2 separate regions of the Homo sapiens genome follow, and region 2 is linked to region 1. The links come from fine-mapping of genetic effects on gene expression. Tissue or cell type: tibial nerve. Region 1 holds a variant in brackets; the other region holds the start of a gene. All regions are shown on one strand. Distances are from middle to middle.

The links. PIP is the estimated chance that this variant, and not a neighbour inherited with it, causes the effect.
Region 2: FAM201A starts here. The variant in region 1 is fine-mapped to the expression of FAM201A in tibial nerve (GTEx, PIP above 0.99). The same link has a PIP of 0.9 or more in esophagus muscle, fetal neocortex, gastroesophageal junction, left ventricle and lung.

What each region holds. Positions count from the first base shown.
Region 1 is chr9:38,637,691-38,645,873 of GRCh38, reverse strand. It overlaps the pseudogene YWHABP1. Among named protein-coding and RNA genes, the nearest start is that of FAM201A, 21 kb to the right of the region's middle. RefSeq lists enhancers at 2,309-2,808, 2,809-3,310. The variant C/T (reference allele first, on the strand shown) is at 3,717.
Region 2 is chr9:38,616,346-38,624,528 of GRCh38, reverse strand. FAM201A (family with sequence similarity 201 member A) reads right to left here and starts at 3,441. Exons shown (of 2, transcript NR_027294.1): 1 at 3,164-3,441; 2 at 1,245-2,697. It overlaps ANKRD18A (ankyrin repeat domain 18A), which reads left to right and starts at 3,933. Exons shown (of 16, transcript NM_147195.4): 1 at 3,933-4,449. The coding sequence starts at 4,244. RefSeq lists enhancers at 2,306-2,515, 3,168-3,287.

The sequences.
Region 1 (8,183 bases):
CTTACGCCTGTAATCCCAGCACTTTGGGAGGCCGAGGCGGGCAGATCACGAGGTCAGGAGATCGAGACTATCCTGGTTAACACAGTGAAACACCATCTCTACTAAAAATACAAAAAAAAAAAAAAAAAAAAAAAAAAAAAATTATCCAGGCTTGGTGGTGGGCGCCTGTAGTCCCAGCTACTCGGGAGGCTGAGGCAGGAGAATGGCGTAAACCTGGGAGGTGGAGCTTGCAGTGAGCCGAGATTGCACCACTGCACTCCAGCCTGGGTGACAGAGACTCTGTCTCAAAAAAAAAAAAAAGTGAACAAAAGGCCAGGCACAGTGACTCATGCCTGTAATCCCAGCACTTTGGGAGGCCAAGACGGGGAAGATCACGAGGTCAGGAGTTCAAGACCAGCCTGACCAACATAGTGAAACCCCATCTCTATTATAAATACAAAATATTAGCTGGGCATGGTGGCACGCACCTGTAATCCCAGCTACTCAGGAGGCTGAGGCAGGAGAATGGCCTGAACCCGGGAGGCGGAGCTTGCAGTGAGCCGAGATCTCGCCACTGCACTCCAGCCTGGGCGACAGAGCAAGACTCCATCTCAAAAAAAAAAAAAAAAAAAGATAAATCCCCATCTCTACTAAAAATACAAAAATTAGGTGGCCTTTGGTGTCACGTGCCTGTAATTCCAGCTACTCAGGAGGTTGAGGCGGGAGAATTGCTTGAACCCAGGAGGCAGAGGTTGCAGTGAGCCAAGATTGTGCCACCGCACTCCAGCCTGGGCCGCAGAGGGAGACCCTGTCTCAAAATTAACTAATTAATTAATGAATAAGTAAATAAAATAAAACATAATATAATAATAAATAAAAGCCCCAATCTAGGAAGAACATGAAAACTGAGCACTCCTGAAGTGAAAGGCAATCTCTACAGAACATTCTTCTGTTTTGTTGGAGTCAAGGTCTTGCTATGTTGCCCATGTGGGAGTGCAGTGGCTATTCACAGGGGCAGCCACAGGACACTATGGCCTTAAACTCCCGGGCTCAGGTGATCCTCCTGCCTCAGCCTCCCAAGTATTTGGAACCACAGGCACACACCACCATGCCTGACTCAGAACATTATTCTTAAAGGTATTATCCAGGAATGTGGGGCAAAGGCATGTGGGGGAAGGGACATCTGTGCTATAATGAGACTGGCTAACACTCAGTGAATGCCGTGTATCTGCTGGGGTTCTGAGCACTTTGTATGCATTATCTTATTAAATTCCTCACACCAAAAAAAAAAAAAAGAAGGAGATATTAGCCAGGAAACAGAAAAGAGCATTCATAAAACAGACAGCATTTACAGCACTAGCTCAGTGTTAACAATGAAAAACTATTCCATTATTGAGGCACAAGTTTCAAATCAGTAACATATTCCTATTGCTGTAGGAAGGGGGGTTTAGTCAGGTGTGTCATATGAGCACCAGAACTTTTCAAGGTGTCACAGCCAGTTATCTGTCACAAGGAATTTCAGCTTCAGGATTTGCATTTCCTCAGAGGAAGACGCTGTGGACATTTGTGGTCATGAACTTTTGAGTGGCAATAGCCCAAACAGGTCCAGTGTCTATAAGCTCTGAACAGGCAGCATCACTGTGAATTACCATTAAACTTGAATGCCAAATGATGGTGTCTCACTCCACATCCCAGCATCACGACATAACCTCTGTAACTTTCTGTACAACTTTACAATGAAATTGTATTTCAGTGACTATTTTAATATTGGATTAAACTTTCCAAAGAGTTACATAACATTCAGGTCTATTTTTCTTATCAGTAAGAATTATGCTGAATTACAAAACCCATCACCACAGTGCTCAGCTTTAAGAAAATTAAACACACAGTAATCTTGCCAATGTCAATCAAAACCAAAACTTCAGAATGCCATGGTGTTTATGCAACCAATCTAGGTTTTAGATACAAGTGCCAGCTGTTTATCCCACGAACCATTCTTGCTAGGCTGAGGCTGTGAAAAATCGCAAGACAATGTACAATTCTTTTTTTTTTTTAATCACACAAAGGGATTTACGTGGATGGTACAGGGTGACACTGAACAGATTGTGAGGCATGGCAGACACAGTTCTCTCCCTCCCCAGCATCTCCTGCATCTCCCTGGTTTCCCGATGTCCCCAGAGTGAGATTGTCCCGAAGTCACTGCATGGTGGGAGTGCTGTCTTTATAAGACTCTTCATTCAGTGTATCCAACTCAGCAATTGCTTCATCAAATGCCACGTTTGCCAGGCTGCAGGCCTTTTCAGGAGAGTTTAGAATCCCGTAGCAAAAGACTGAGAAATTAAGTGCCAGGCCCAGTCGAATTGGGTGTGTAGGCTGCATATCTTTCTTACTAATTTCAGATGTTTCCTGGTAAGCCTGCTGGGAGTTCAACAGTGTGGTTTGTTTATTGTCTCCAGACGCCACCCCAGAAAGATACCCGAAACAATCTCCTTTCATTTTCAAGGAGAACGCCTTGCTTTCAGGTTGTGTAGCATGGGGAATAAGAGACTTGTCCAACAGCTCCGGAACCTCATTGCAGATGTCCAGCAGCTCTGCCTCTGTCTTCCATGGTACTCTTTGCCCATCTGCTGCTTCTCATTCCTCCTGTTCTCTGCTCAGTGCTGGAGATGAGAATCCAGGAAGAACAGTGGGCCCCACCGTATTCTTGTAGGCGGCAGAGGGCAGATTGCTGTCTTCAGCTGGGGGCGCATGCCCCTGTGGCATGGCTGCCTTCCCGGCTGCAGCCACATCATCACCGCGCTCAGCCTGCTCAGCGGGCCTGGCTTTCTGTACCAGCACACTTTTATCCATTGTCAGTTCCAAGCACAGCTCTGAGCTTGGTGACCACTACCTTCCCAAGCTGACTCCTTAGGCCGCTGCAGTGGCTGTGGCAGCGGCAGCTACCCCAGCTCCAAAATCAGCGGTGGCTGCTCCACTTCCCAAAAACAGCCTCTCTTTGATGAGCTACTATCATGTGTTGCCCGCAGCACAGCCCATCTGAAAAACTAAATAAAAATGAGCAGAAACAAATGAGCCCCAAGTTGCCAACTCTCTGGAAAATTCCGAAGACTGCCAGCAGGTGTCACTTCCAGGTGTGAGAAAAATAGAAGTGTCTGGAAAAGGATGGGATGTGGCAACGAGAATGGCGAACTCAAAGGGAACCAGGTGTGCCAGGGCAGCTGGTAGCCACGGCAGGGCGAGGGTGTGGGTGGTTCCTGTGTTCCTCTGAGTCCCTGTCTCACCAATAGGCCACACAGGATGGTCTCCCTCTAAATGTTAATCTCGAGGTGACGAGAGTGGCATTCGGACATCAGAGCACTGATGGTGGGCCATTTCCTGCAAGCCCCACTCACCCCTGCATCTAATAAGCCCCACGGCTCTGGGCTGATGGTCATTCCTAAGTGATCCCAGCTCACTACAGGAAAGGGGCCCACACTCCATCTGTCCTAGAACAGCTGCCACCTCTTGGGCAGCCCAGGCTAGGAACACCCCGCCAGAGTGCGCATGTCTGACCATATCATAGTTTGTCATGGTAGGAATAATTGAACTAGCTTTCCTTGGGCCTTTTTTGGATTTTCAGAAAGATTAGGGCATTCCATCTTTTTATTTCCTCCTTTCCCATTTCTCAAATGTGAAATTCAATTCTCTACCCCCTGCAGTGTGAATTGTATAATGCAAGCCAACAGCCCCATCTAGTG[C/T]ACTCCTCTCCAACTTCTGCAAAATGACTCTGTGGCCAGTCCTCCCAGACAAGGAGAGGTGCCAGATATGTGCTTTTATTGCCCTGTCAATCAGACATAAGAAACATGAGGAGAGACGGGAGGATGGCTTGAGCCAGGGAGGTTGAGGCTGCAGTGAGCCATGATTATGCCACTACACTCCAGCCTGGACGACAGAGTGAGACCTAGTCTGGAAAAAAAAAAAAAAAAAAAGAAGAAAAGAAGCATGAGGACCTAATTCAGTTTTCAGTGTTAGAATAAATAGCATTTATTTTCTGATAAAATTGCACATCACCCTTGAGCTATACCCCATGTACCCTGTTTCCATGGTTAGCACGAATGGTGGTGGACCACACCTGTTCTGTCCTGAGGCACGTCAGGCATTCCCCGGAGCCCCCAGCTCTAGGAGGTGGGTCACAGGGGTCATCACGAGGTCTGCGCTCCGAGAGAGAAAATCCCCCACGGGGAATATCATGATTGACCCCAAATCACCATCGTGCTCAGCTCAGAATGCATTTGAGAGTTCAAGGAGGCACTTTGGGCTAAAGTGAAAGATCCATACTAGAGCCAGATCAAGTCGAAGAGGGATTTTTGTGTCAAGATCCAAGCATGCCTCACCAGGCCTGATGATAGCGCTCTGAAGTTATGTTCACTTTCTTACCTCCGTGCGCTGGCTTTACTTCTCTTCGTCTCTTGGTCAGCTGAATTTCTGTGTTTCCCGAACCACAAGGGAGACCTGGCTTTCCACAGCTCCCGGGTTCCCCGGGGCTCTGTTCTAGGAAGTGAACCCTGGGGCAGGAGTAGGGGAGACAGCTGCAGACAGCACAAAGTTAGGCACTAACTCAGTGCAGAACTCAGCAGAGTGCTAGCCCAGCGTGTTTTCTCTCTCCTTTCACCCCTTAGAGACTCCCACTCCTGGGAACATCACACACCAGGGCCTGTCAGGGGGTGCGGAAAAGGGGAGGGAGAGCATTAGCACAAATACCTAATGCATGTGGGGCTTAAAACCTAGATGACGGGTTGATAGGTGCAGCAAACCACCATGGCACATGTATACCCGTGTATATAACAAACCTGCATGTTCAGCACATGTATCCCAGAACTTAAAGTAAAATCTAAAAATAAAAATAAATAAGTAAAGACCCGCTCGTGCCATAAATGGTTCCTGCAGTCCACAGGCGTGTAAAGTCGGTGTTTCCTCGGTCCTCTCAGCTTCCCTTTCCTCAGTACGGGCTTCGTTTATTCCTAAGGCCTCTGGGCTTCCCCATCAGTGGGGAAGGTGACCGCTCTGATACCAGATCCAATGCCTCCAAGCTCTTGAACCCCCGCAGAAAGGAAAGATGGCCAGAAGCCAAGTGGAAAGCAGGCTTCTTTGGATGCCCTTCATTTTTACCGAAAGCTTGTTTTTAAATAATCTTTCGCATTAATCTGAAAGCATAGACTTATAAAGCATCAGGAGAATCATAGGATTTTTCTTACTTTGAAAACTGAAAACAAGCAACATGCAAAACTGGCCAGTCAGAGGAGGCTTAAAGAAACGAAATACATCCTGGTTACAGACAAAAAGAATTCCCGAAGATCTCTCACTTTCTGATCTGAGGGGAAGGAAAATGAGCCCCTACAGGTGAGAAAGAGGAGGATGAATTCCCTCCTATATTTCTGCTTTCCTTTCTTTATAACCTAAGCAATACTGTGCTGGTGATTCAGTGGTTGCAGCTGGGCAAAGAGCAACAGCTACCAACAAGAAGCACCTACAACTCTGAAGGAAGAAACTCTTCTCTCTTACCTGAGAATCTATGGTTCCAGGAGTTCAGAGTGATTCTTCACTGCTCTTTTTCTCTGTGTGCTTGTACCACATGGCTCTGAACCACAATAGAACTACAGCCCACTGGAGGAATTTGCATATTGAATCTGACCTAGCCGATTGCCATTGAAAACAACAGCAAAAGACATTGTCCTGACGTTTTAAACAAAACCCAGAGTCTCATAAGATAATATCCAAAATATTCAGGATATAATCCAAAATGGTTCAGCATGTAAAGAACAAGGAAAATCTCAACTTGCAAGTGAAAAGACAGTTACACTTCAGAACTAAAAATAAAAACACTGAAATTAAAAATTCACAAGATGATCTCAACAGCAGAATAGAAATGACAAAGGAAAAAGTCCATGAACTTAAAGATAGATCAATAAAAAGTATTCAATATAAGCAACAGAGAGGAAAAACGTTTGAAGAAAAATGAGCATAGCCTTAAGGATCTGTGTAACAATACAATGACACATCTGTGCCATTGGAGTTCTACAGAGAGAAGCATAAGAACAGAGTAAAAAATATATGAAGCCATGCATCTCTTAATGACAGTAATACATTCCGAGACATGTGTCGTTAGGCAATTTCATCACTGTGTGAACCACAGAGTGCACTTCCGCAAACATAGATGATAAAGCCTACTACACACCTACGCTATATGGTATATCCTGTAGCTCCTAGGCCATATGCCTGCATAACATGTTACTATATGGAATACTGCCGGCAATTGTATTACAATGGTAAGTGTTTGTATATCCAAACATATCTAAACAGAGAAAAGGTGTAGTAAAAATATGGTAGAAAAGACAAAAAATGGTACACCTATGTAGGACACTTACCATGAATGGAGCTTGCAGGACTGGAAGTTGCTCTGGGTGAGTCAGTGTGTGAGTGGTGAGTAAATATGAAGGCCTAGGACATTAATGTACACTATTGCTGACTTTATAAACACAGTACACTCAGGCTACACTGAATGTATTTTAATTATTTTCTTTAGGCTGGGTAAAAATTTGACAAAACCATTAATAGAGGTCCCCAAGTATTGGGAAAGTGTTTCAGGAAGTGCAAGCATATGACAGTTAAAATATATGGCACTGTGGACAGGTGCTTAAGATTTTTATGATAAAGTGTAGCAAGTTGCAAGGTATGACCAGTCATTTCATATCTTGCATCTTGATGTCACACCTTGCAGTGGAGTGGAGAGAAAAGTTATTGGGTCAAAAGAGTCGAGGAACCATGAGTCACTTTACAAGAATTATCAGACTGCCCATGGGGAGCAGTGACAAGAAGCCCAGGGCTACAGGAAGGGAGAGGACTATGATGGACATCAGTGGAGTCACGTTGCATGGTGGCATGAGTCTCAAAAGTCAAAGGCGTGTAACAACGGAGAAGCGAGTGGAAGTGGGGAATGCAGATCTGACTGGCCGGGTGTGGTGGCTCACACCTGTAATCTCAGCACTTTGGGAGGCCGAGGTGGGCAGATCACGAGGTCAGGAGATCGAGACCATCCTGGCTAACACGGTGAAATCCCGCCTCTACTAAAAATACAAAAAATCAGCCGGGCGTAGTAATGGGCACCTGTAGTCCCAGCTACTCAGCTGAGGCAGGAGAATGGTGTGAACCTGGGAAGCGGAGCTTTCAGTGAGCCAAGATGGTGCCACTGCACTCCAGCCTAGGAGAAGGGAAAAGGACTCTCTTCCCATAATTCCACGTGACCCAGGTGCCACGAATATATTACCATGTAGGGAAAAATCAATGGCTATGAACACTTTCTTCTTTAAATGTATAATAAAACAATACTTTTTTTTTTTTGAAACAGAATCTCACTCTGTCGCCCAGGCTGGAGTGCAGTGGCACAATCTCAGCTCACTGCAACATCTGCTTTCCAGGTTCAAGCAAGTCTTCTGCCTCAGCTTCCCGAGTAGCTGGGACTACAGGCGCATGCCACCATGCCAGGCTAATTTTTGTATTTTTAGTAGAGATGGGGTTTCACCATATTGGCCAGGCTGGTCTGAAAGTCCTGACCTCATGATCTGCCCACCTTGGCCTCCCAAAGTGCTGGGATTACAGGCATGAGCCACCACGTCTGGCCAAAAATACATTTTCTTTCTTCCCTCTTCTTCCACCCAAAGCCACGAATTTGACTTAAGATACATTTTTTTTCCTTTATATGTTCACATAACTTAAGGAATAGTAAACCAAAGAAGGAAAGAAAGAAACAGAAACTAAGCCAGATAGAAAAATGAGTAACTGGGGTCAGGCTCAGTGGCTCACACCTGTAATCCCAGCACTTTGGGTAGCTGAGGAAAGAGGAACAGTTGAGCCCTAGGCAACGTGGCAAAAACCAATTTCTACAAAAAAAAAAAAAAAAAAAAAAAAAGAAAAAAAATTAGCTGGGTGTGGTGTCACATGACTGTAGTCCCAGCTACTTGGGGGGCTGAGGAGGGATGATTGCTTGAGCACAACAGGTCGAGGCTGCAGTGAGCTGTGATCATGCCATCGCACTCCAGCCTGGGTCACAGAACGAGGCCCTGTCTCAAAACAAAATAAAATGGTGCCGGGCATGGTGGCTCACGCCTGTAATCCCAGCACTTTGGGAGGCCGAGGCGGACAGATCACAAGATCAGGAATCGGAGACC
Region 2 (8,183 bases), 21 kb after region 1:
TCATGGTTAAAACTCTCAGCAAATTAGAAATAGAAGGGAAATTCCTCAACTGATAAAGAACATATACCAAAAGAACATCCTACAGACAATATCATACATAATGTGAAAAATGGGATGTTTTACACAAAAGAAGCAAGGAAATGTTATCCCCTCTCACTGCTCCTATTCAACATCATACTAAAATCCTAGCTAATGCAATAAGACAAGAAAATAAAATAAAAGGTATACAGATTGGAAAGGGAGCATTAAAATGCCCTTTGCTTGCTGATAACTTGATTTTCTATGTAGAGAATCTCAAAGCATCAGCCAAAAACCCTTCTGGATTATAGCAAGGTTGCACGGTATAAGGTTAATATACAAAATCAATTGCTGTCCTACATCCAGCAATGAACAACGAGAATTTGAAATTAAAAGCCCAATACCATTTTCATTAGCATCAAGAAAATGAAATAGACACAATCTAGCAAAATATGGGCAGGGTCTATGTGAGAAAAACTATAAAATCTGTTGAAAGGGATTAAAGATCTAAATAAATGAAGGGACATCTGTATTCACAAAATAAGACCCAGTGTTGTTAAGATGTCAGTTCTCTTCAGTGTGATTTACAAATTCATTACAACTCTCGTGAAAACATGAATAAATTATTGTGTGGAAATTGACAAACTAATTCTAAAGTTTATATAGAAAGACAAACTAACAAGAATAGCCAACAATATTGTGGGGGAGGAACAAAGTTCAAGGACTTGCAAAGTGATCAACGGAACAGAATAGAGAACTCAGAAATAAGAGTGCACAAACACAGTCAATTGATCTTTTACAAAAAGGTAAAGGCAATTCAAGGGAGAAAGGGTAGCTTTTTCAAAAACAGTGATGAATACATTGCGTGTATGTATATATACATATATGCAAAAAAAAAAAGAATTGAGACACAGACCTTGCTCCTCAAAAATTAACTCGAACGACACATTTTTAAGTTAATAATATTTTAAATTGTCAAACCACAATTGCATACATTTATGGGGTACAATGTGATGCTTGGATATGTGTATAAAATGAGGAATGACTACATCGAGGATAAAATATCCATCACCTCATGGCGTGAACCCAGGAGGCGGAGCTTGCAGTGAGCCGAGACCCTGCCACTGCAGTCCGGCCTGGGCGAAAGAGCGAGACTCTGTCTCAAAAAAATAAATAAATAAACAAATAAATAAATAAAATAAAAAATACCCATCACCTCAATTTTATTTTTTGTGGTTAGATATTTGAAATTTACTTTTTGTTATTTAAATATACAGTACATTATTATTGACTATAGTCATCCTGCTGTGCAATAGATTTCAAAACGCATTTCTCCGGTTTAACTGAATCTTTGCATCTGTGAACAACTTCCCATTTTTCTCCCCAGCAACACAGCCTCTGGTAAGCATCATTATACTCTCTACTTTTATGAATTCAATTTTTAGACCTAAATTTAAATCCAAAAGCTGTAAAACTTCTGTAAAATAACAAAAGGGATATTTAGGTAACTTTGGGTTTGGCAATTACTTTGTAGATACAACAGTAAAGTACATAAAAGACAAATTTCTACCATGAAAGAAGATATTGGTATGAAGTCGTTACAATTAAAAACTTTTGCTCTGGGAAAGGAAATAAGAGAATGGAGAAACAAGCCACAGACGGAGAAAATATTTGCAAAACACCTGTCTGGCATCCAGACCATTAAAAACCACTTACAACTCAACAATAAGAAATCGAACAACCCAATTAGTAAATGGACGAAAGATCTAAAGAGGCTCCCATCAGAGATGGCATATAGAAGGGGAAAAGCTTATGAAAAGATGTTTGCCCTCCCAACGCTTTTCCCTCCCTGCGTCCCTCTCCCTCACACACCCTCCGCTGCAGCGGAGTGGGAGCGGGTCAGGGGCGCTAGGCGGTGACGGTGACGGTGACGTGCTGTCTCTCGGGCGAGGCGTGGGATTTAAGCGCATTATAAGCCGTGGGTCCCGGGGAATCCGAGAGGCTGAGCTTGGAGCCCAGACTGACCCGCCTCTCTCATGGTCCCGGCCCACTGCCCTGCAGAGCCCGCCTTACTCTTCCTCTCCACAGGTCTGCTGTGGCTCCACCAAGCCTGGTAGGCCCACAAGGAGCTGCATCCAGCAGGAGCCGCCGCCCGGGAACAAGCTACCCGCGGGCTCTGGGGACAACCGCCCGTCTGATGAGCTCGGCTGAGCGTGCACGCAATGTCGAAATCAAGGACGCCTGGATGCTTTTCATGGCAGAGTGACAAAAGTTTACCAACAAGAAGAGGAGCAGGGCTGCTGAAAGGTGCGGTGCCGCGGCGCCAGAATGCGGGATCCTGAGCCCTGCATGCGAGTCTTCGCGGGGCCGATCGCTGCGAGCCTCGCTTAGGTCCAGCCGCCTCCAGGGAGGGCAATATCCACGAGACGCGGGGAGTGAGGGCGGTGCTGGCCGCACCCCTGGTCCTGGGGCCGCGGGAGCCGTGCTAGCAGGCCGCCTTCCACTGCCGCCTGCGCCGGGTCGGGTTGCTGCAGCGGTGCCCGCTGCAGGAGCTCCGCGCCTGCTGCTTCTCCGACGTCAGGGCGCCGCCAGGATGACAGGTGCAGGAGGCTGCGGCTGTGGGCAGATGTGGTTTCCAGCCCCAGGTCCCGGCGGCCCCTGGCTTCCCAGCCCGCTGTCCTGTGGGCAAGAAGATGAAGAAAGTCACCCCATCAGCAGGTCAGCTGCCCCGCCTGGCAGCCCAGCCAGACAAGGCAACCGAAGTTCATCCTGTCTGAGTTGACTTTGTGCAGGCAGCGGGCCGGCGCCCAGGATGCTGGGGAGCCCTGCGCGCCGGAGGCCGACAAGCCGTGGGGCCCAGAGGCGCCACAGGGCGAGAAGGCACCCGCCTCCCAGCGCTTTCACCCCCCGGCCCGCCCGACCCGCTAGGTGTAGCAGTGGCTGCGGCCAAGCCAGGCATTCTGCCCGGCGGCGGCTGCACAGGGGCGAAAACTGAGAACCCCTGCTCAACCCCATCCGGAGTGACTGCCAAGTGCCCATGCCAGCGACCCCGATCCCCCTCCGGTGGAGGAATGGGCGGGAGGCACGGCCTGGGGGCCCTCAGGCTGGGCGCGCTGGCGATCCCGAGGCCGACCAGGCCATGCACCTCCAGCCCGCCTGGGCACCCAAGCTGCATCCGCCTTCTGTGTGCAGGCAGCAGCCTCCAGGCAACCCCCGAGCCCGCCAGCACTCCCCACATCTCAGAACCGGGGCCAGATGTCCCTGTGGCTGCGGCTGAGCTAGGTGGTCTGCCCTGCAGCGGGAACCGGCTCTCAGCCCCATTCCCCGTGGCTGCAGAGGGCCACTGGCTAGAGGTCCCGAGCTTCAGCAGACGAGGAGCCGAGCAGGGGCAGGGCCTGGCGGGCTCTCAGGCCAGGTGCACTCGCGATCCAGAGGCCGCCTAGGCCGTGCTCCACCACCTGGGCGCCCAAGCTGCAGGCGCCCTCTACCTGCTGGCGACAGCTGCCTGGCAACTCCCAAGATGGCTGGCGCTCCCAGCCTGGCAGAACCGGGGCTACATGTCGCCCTGGCTGCGGCCAAGCCAGGCGGTCTACCCGGCGGCGGCTGCACCGGGACAGGAACCGACCCCCCAGTCCCATCCCCGGTGGCTGCGGAGGGCCCCTGTCAGCGGCCCCGATCTCTCTTCGGAGGAGGAGCGGGTCGGGAGTCAGGGCCAGGCAGGCCCTCAGGCGGGAAGGGATGCACTCCTGGGATTCCGGGACGTCCCGCGGGAGCCCAGGAGAACCCGCAAGCCAGCGACGCGTGCGCCCGTGCTGCAGGTGCCCCCTGCCGGCCACGAGGGCTTGGGAGCGGCTTCCGGAGTCCCGGCTGGCGCTGAGTTGTAGGCGCGCGCCTAACTGGCATCGCGGGGACTCACTCGGTCTGAGAGTTCGGAGCGCTGAGGTTCAGGCGCGCGCCTAACGGCTTAGCTGGGCTCACTCGGTCTGAGAGGTCGGAGTCTGCGAGTGTCGCTGCTGAAGGCTGTGGTGGACCGGGCTGGATCGCGGATTCTGAGCTACATTGCGGGTTTGGGGGTGGATCTTGGATTTGGGGGTGGATCGCGGGTTGCGGGGGGGATCGCGGGTTGCGGGGGAGATCGCGGATTTGGGGCGGAGTGGGGGTGGAAAGGCCACGAGGAGCCGCCGCGGCTCAGGAGCGGGTGGTGGGCGTCTGAGAAGTCGCCACCATGAGGAAGCTCTTCAGCTTCGGGAGACGCCTGGGCCAGGCGCTCCTGAGCTCCATGGACCAAGAGTATGCGGGTCCGGGTTACGACATTCGGGACTGGGAACTGCGGAAGATCCACAGGGCTGCCATCAAGGGCGACGCCGCGGAGGTGGAGCGCTGCCTGACGCGCAGGTTCCGGGACTTGGACGCCCGCGACAGAAAAGACAGGTAGCTCGGGGACTCAGCCCGCGGTGGGAGGGGGCCGCAGGCCCGGCTTCCCTGCAGCCCGGCAGCCCCTGGGGCGGGGACCTTGGAGGGCGCCGGGCACCCTCGGAGCAGCGGAGCCAAATGGAGCCTCAGCTGCTTTCCGTCGCTGGCAATTCCCCGTCCGTCGCGCTTGGTGGAAAATTTGAGTGATTTAACTCACAAAGTTAGGCATATCCACGTTTAAAACATGGGGCCATATACATGATAGGGAGGTGCCTAATGAGAACTCATTCCCCTGTCAAAAATACCATGAGCCTTTTTCAGTAGGCGAAGAGTTCTCAGATAAAACCCTGTGTCGGTTTTACATCCGAATCCACCTAGGTAGACAGGTTCTTTACTGGAGCTTCTTAGAGGGACACTGGGAAGCGCGAGGTGGGTTCCTTGAATGGGAAGACTCAGTTTTCTCAAAATATGAACTGTTTCCATGTTTATCAGTTTTACATAAACTGAATGAAGATATCAAGGTTTTATCATTTTTGCATGACACTTGCTATCTATCTTACCATTGTGATGACATTTAAAAATGTTTATAATGGAGTGAAAAGACTTGCTCCTCTAGATATCAAAATGTGCTATTAATTCCCACAATTAATTATTTACTAACAGCTGAAAACACAGATAAATAAATGGAACAGAACAGGAAATCCAAAAACACTGAAATATATGTAAGATATATACATAGGGATGGATAATGGTAACGTTTCAGATGAGTAGGAAAAGATGAGTTATTAATAAAATGCCTGCTGTGTGAAGAAAACTAATGAAACTTTATGTCGCAAAAATGGGTTCCTGATGGAATTCAGACTGAAATTTTTACACATGCAAAATGAGAAAAAGTACCAGAAGAAAACGCAAAGACTTATTTATACAGGTACATTTTATGTTAACAAAGGCCTTCGTAAGAATGACCTCGCAAGCAGGCATTCTGAAAGTTGATTTAGCAAACTAAAAATTAAAATCCCCTGTGTATCAGAAAAAAATTAACAAAAGATAACACACTCGAAAAATATTTCCTATATATATTTTTACTAATATATAAAAATATATATTCAGATGAAAAGTGTATCTTCATCCTACAGGGAATTTATTCTTTATTATATATAATACATATTACTGATTATATGTATAAGAAATTGTATATATTACTAATATAATGTGTTATATATATATATCAGTTATATATATACAGATAAAAAGCACATCTTTATTTTACAGGGAATTCTTTCCAATCAAATCCACAAGAAAAGAACTCTAGAAGTGAGCAAAGCACTTTTTGCAGATTCACAAGTTACTTATGTACATAGGAAAAAATCCTTAGTGTTTCTCATAAGATAAGTTAAAAGAGGAGTGAGACTGTGTTCTATCCACAGTGTTTGTGAGAATGAAGAGCAGTGGCACTTACACTGCTGCTTGAAGTTTAAGTTGCTGATGACTTTTCAAGTGGATAATTTGGAGATAATTACCACATTTTAAAAATGTATATGCCCTTTACCCATCAATTCCATTGTATTAAAATACCTTCAGAAAATAGAGATACATGCACTTTTTTTCCCCAGCATTTATGTTAACAAGAACCCATAGAATGGTATGTGGCCATTGAAGGTGGCAATAGGTGGAGAAGTATGTTGATATGTGAAGATGCATTTTGTTACAGCCAGTGAGGAAAAACAAATCAGTTTGCTTGCACATACACACAAACATACTATGGTCTGGTGTTAGGCAATACTATGCACAAAATAGGATAAAATTTGTAACTTCTGAGCATTTGTATTTTAAAGTTTTTTGTTCCTTTTTCTTACCTTTGATTTCTGAAGTGAGCATTTATAAAATTTCTAGTAAAAATTTATTATTAATGGAATAAATTTTGGGAAGAGAAATATGACTCTTGAACAGATAAAAATAATTTCTCACTATTTTTTATCATTATTATTGTGAGGGTTTGAACTTTTAGCTTCTTCAGAAGTAAAAAGGGAATCTTTTTATCTGTGCTTGCAGATTTTATGTATATACTTTATTATGTATATATGTTTTTCTTATGTATAGATTCATTACATATAGGCAAACAATGATAGATTAATCATTTCATTATAGTTGTAGTCTTATCAAAATAACAAATAGCAAATATTATTACTATCACAAAAATATTGGTTTATAGAAGTTGTATTTAAAAATATTGAGCTCCCCAACTGTATTCTATCAATCCATTTATTCATCAAACATAACTCGAATATGTTATGTAGCAAACATTTTGCACTATCTCTCAGGACCCTTCCATACTTAAAAACTTTATGTTTACCTGTTCTGCCTGAGCAAGATGAGAGATTTAAAATAGGAATAGTAGAACTTAATCTCACTGAAGCTTTTCCTCCCACCTTTCAAGCAAAAGCCTTTCTGAAGGTAGAAAACAATAAGAGATAACCTTTAACTGCCCTTTTGAAAATTTATCAGTCTTAAATACTAATATTAATCATTGGAAAGTCTGATTTGCATATATTCTGTAAATCTAAGTGTTGACTAAAATGAGCCATACCTGTTCATCTCAATCATGAGTTTCCTTTAGCTTCACGTTTCTTTTTGTTTGTTTGTTTGTTTTTTCGTTTTGCGACAGAGTCTCACTCTGTCGCCTATGCTGGAGTGCAGTGGCGTGATCTCAGCTCACTGCAACCTCTGCTGCCAAGGTTCAAGTGATTATCCTGCCTCAGCCTCCCGAGTAGCTGGGATTACAGGTGCCTGCCACCGCACCCAGCTAATTTTTGTAGTTTTAGTAGAGACAGAGTTTCACTATGTTGGCCAGGCTGGTCCTGAACTCCTGACCTAGAGATCCACCTGCCTCGGCCTCCCAAAGTGCTGGGATCACAGGCGTGAGCCACTGGGCCCGGCCAGCTTCCCATTTTTAAAAATCAAAGTAAGAAGTAATTTGTTTAAAAAATATGTTGTTATTTCAGTGCTCTTTCCCCATGGTACTTTGAGGAATTAAAATGTATTTAAGTGTCAATTAGATTCCTAGAATTGCCCTAGACCTGCTGTGTATACAGTATTCTACTTAATGTAAGACCTCATGGATTGTGTGATACCCTACTATTTTCTATATTAATAAGATGATTTTTAAATGCTACCAATTATAAATGCTACCATATAAAAATTATGAATTATAAATACCACTCCAATATCAGATATGCTAAAATGTGACCTAATCTTTAAATCATCCTGCAAAATAGCAATAATTGTATCATTTTACTTAATTAAAATATTTTTGTTAAATACTAGTAATATAATTATAACATCTGGCTGAGTGCATGGCTCACACCTGTCATTCCAGAACTTTGGAAGGCTGAGGTGGGAAGTTCCCATGATGCTAGGAGTTTGAGACCAGCCTGGGCAACAAGGTGACATTCCTACTCTACAAAAAAAAATTTAAAAATTAGCTGATCATGCTGGTGCACTCCTGTGGTCCCAGCTATTCAGGAGGCTGGGGCAGGAGGTTTGCTTGAGCCTACAAGTGCCAGGCTGCAGTGAGGTATAAATACACCATTGCACTCCAGCCTGGGCAACAGAGCAAGACCGTGTCTCAACAAACAAAAGTCTAACAGTTATTGAGTTGTTGCTTGTTCTGGAAACAGTTCTAAATGCTTTACATAGATTTTCATTTAAGCATCACAGTGGTGTCCTGTGAGCTAGCTGCTGTGGTCATCTTT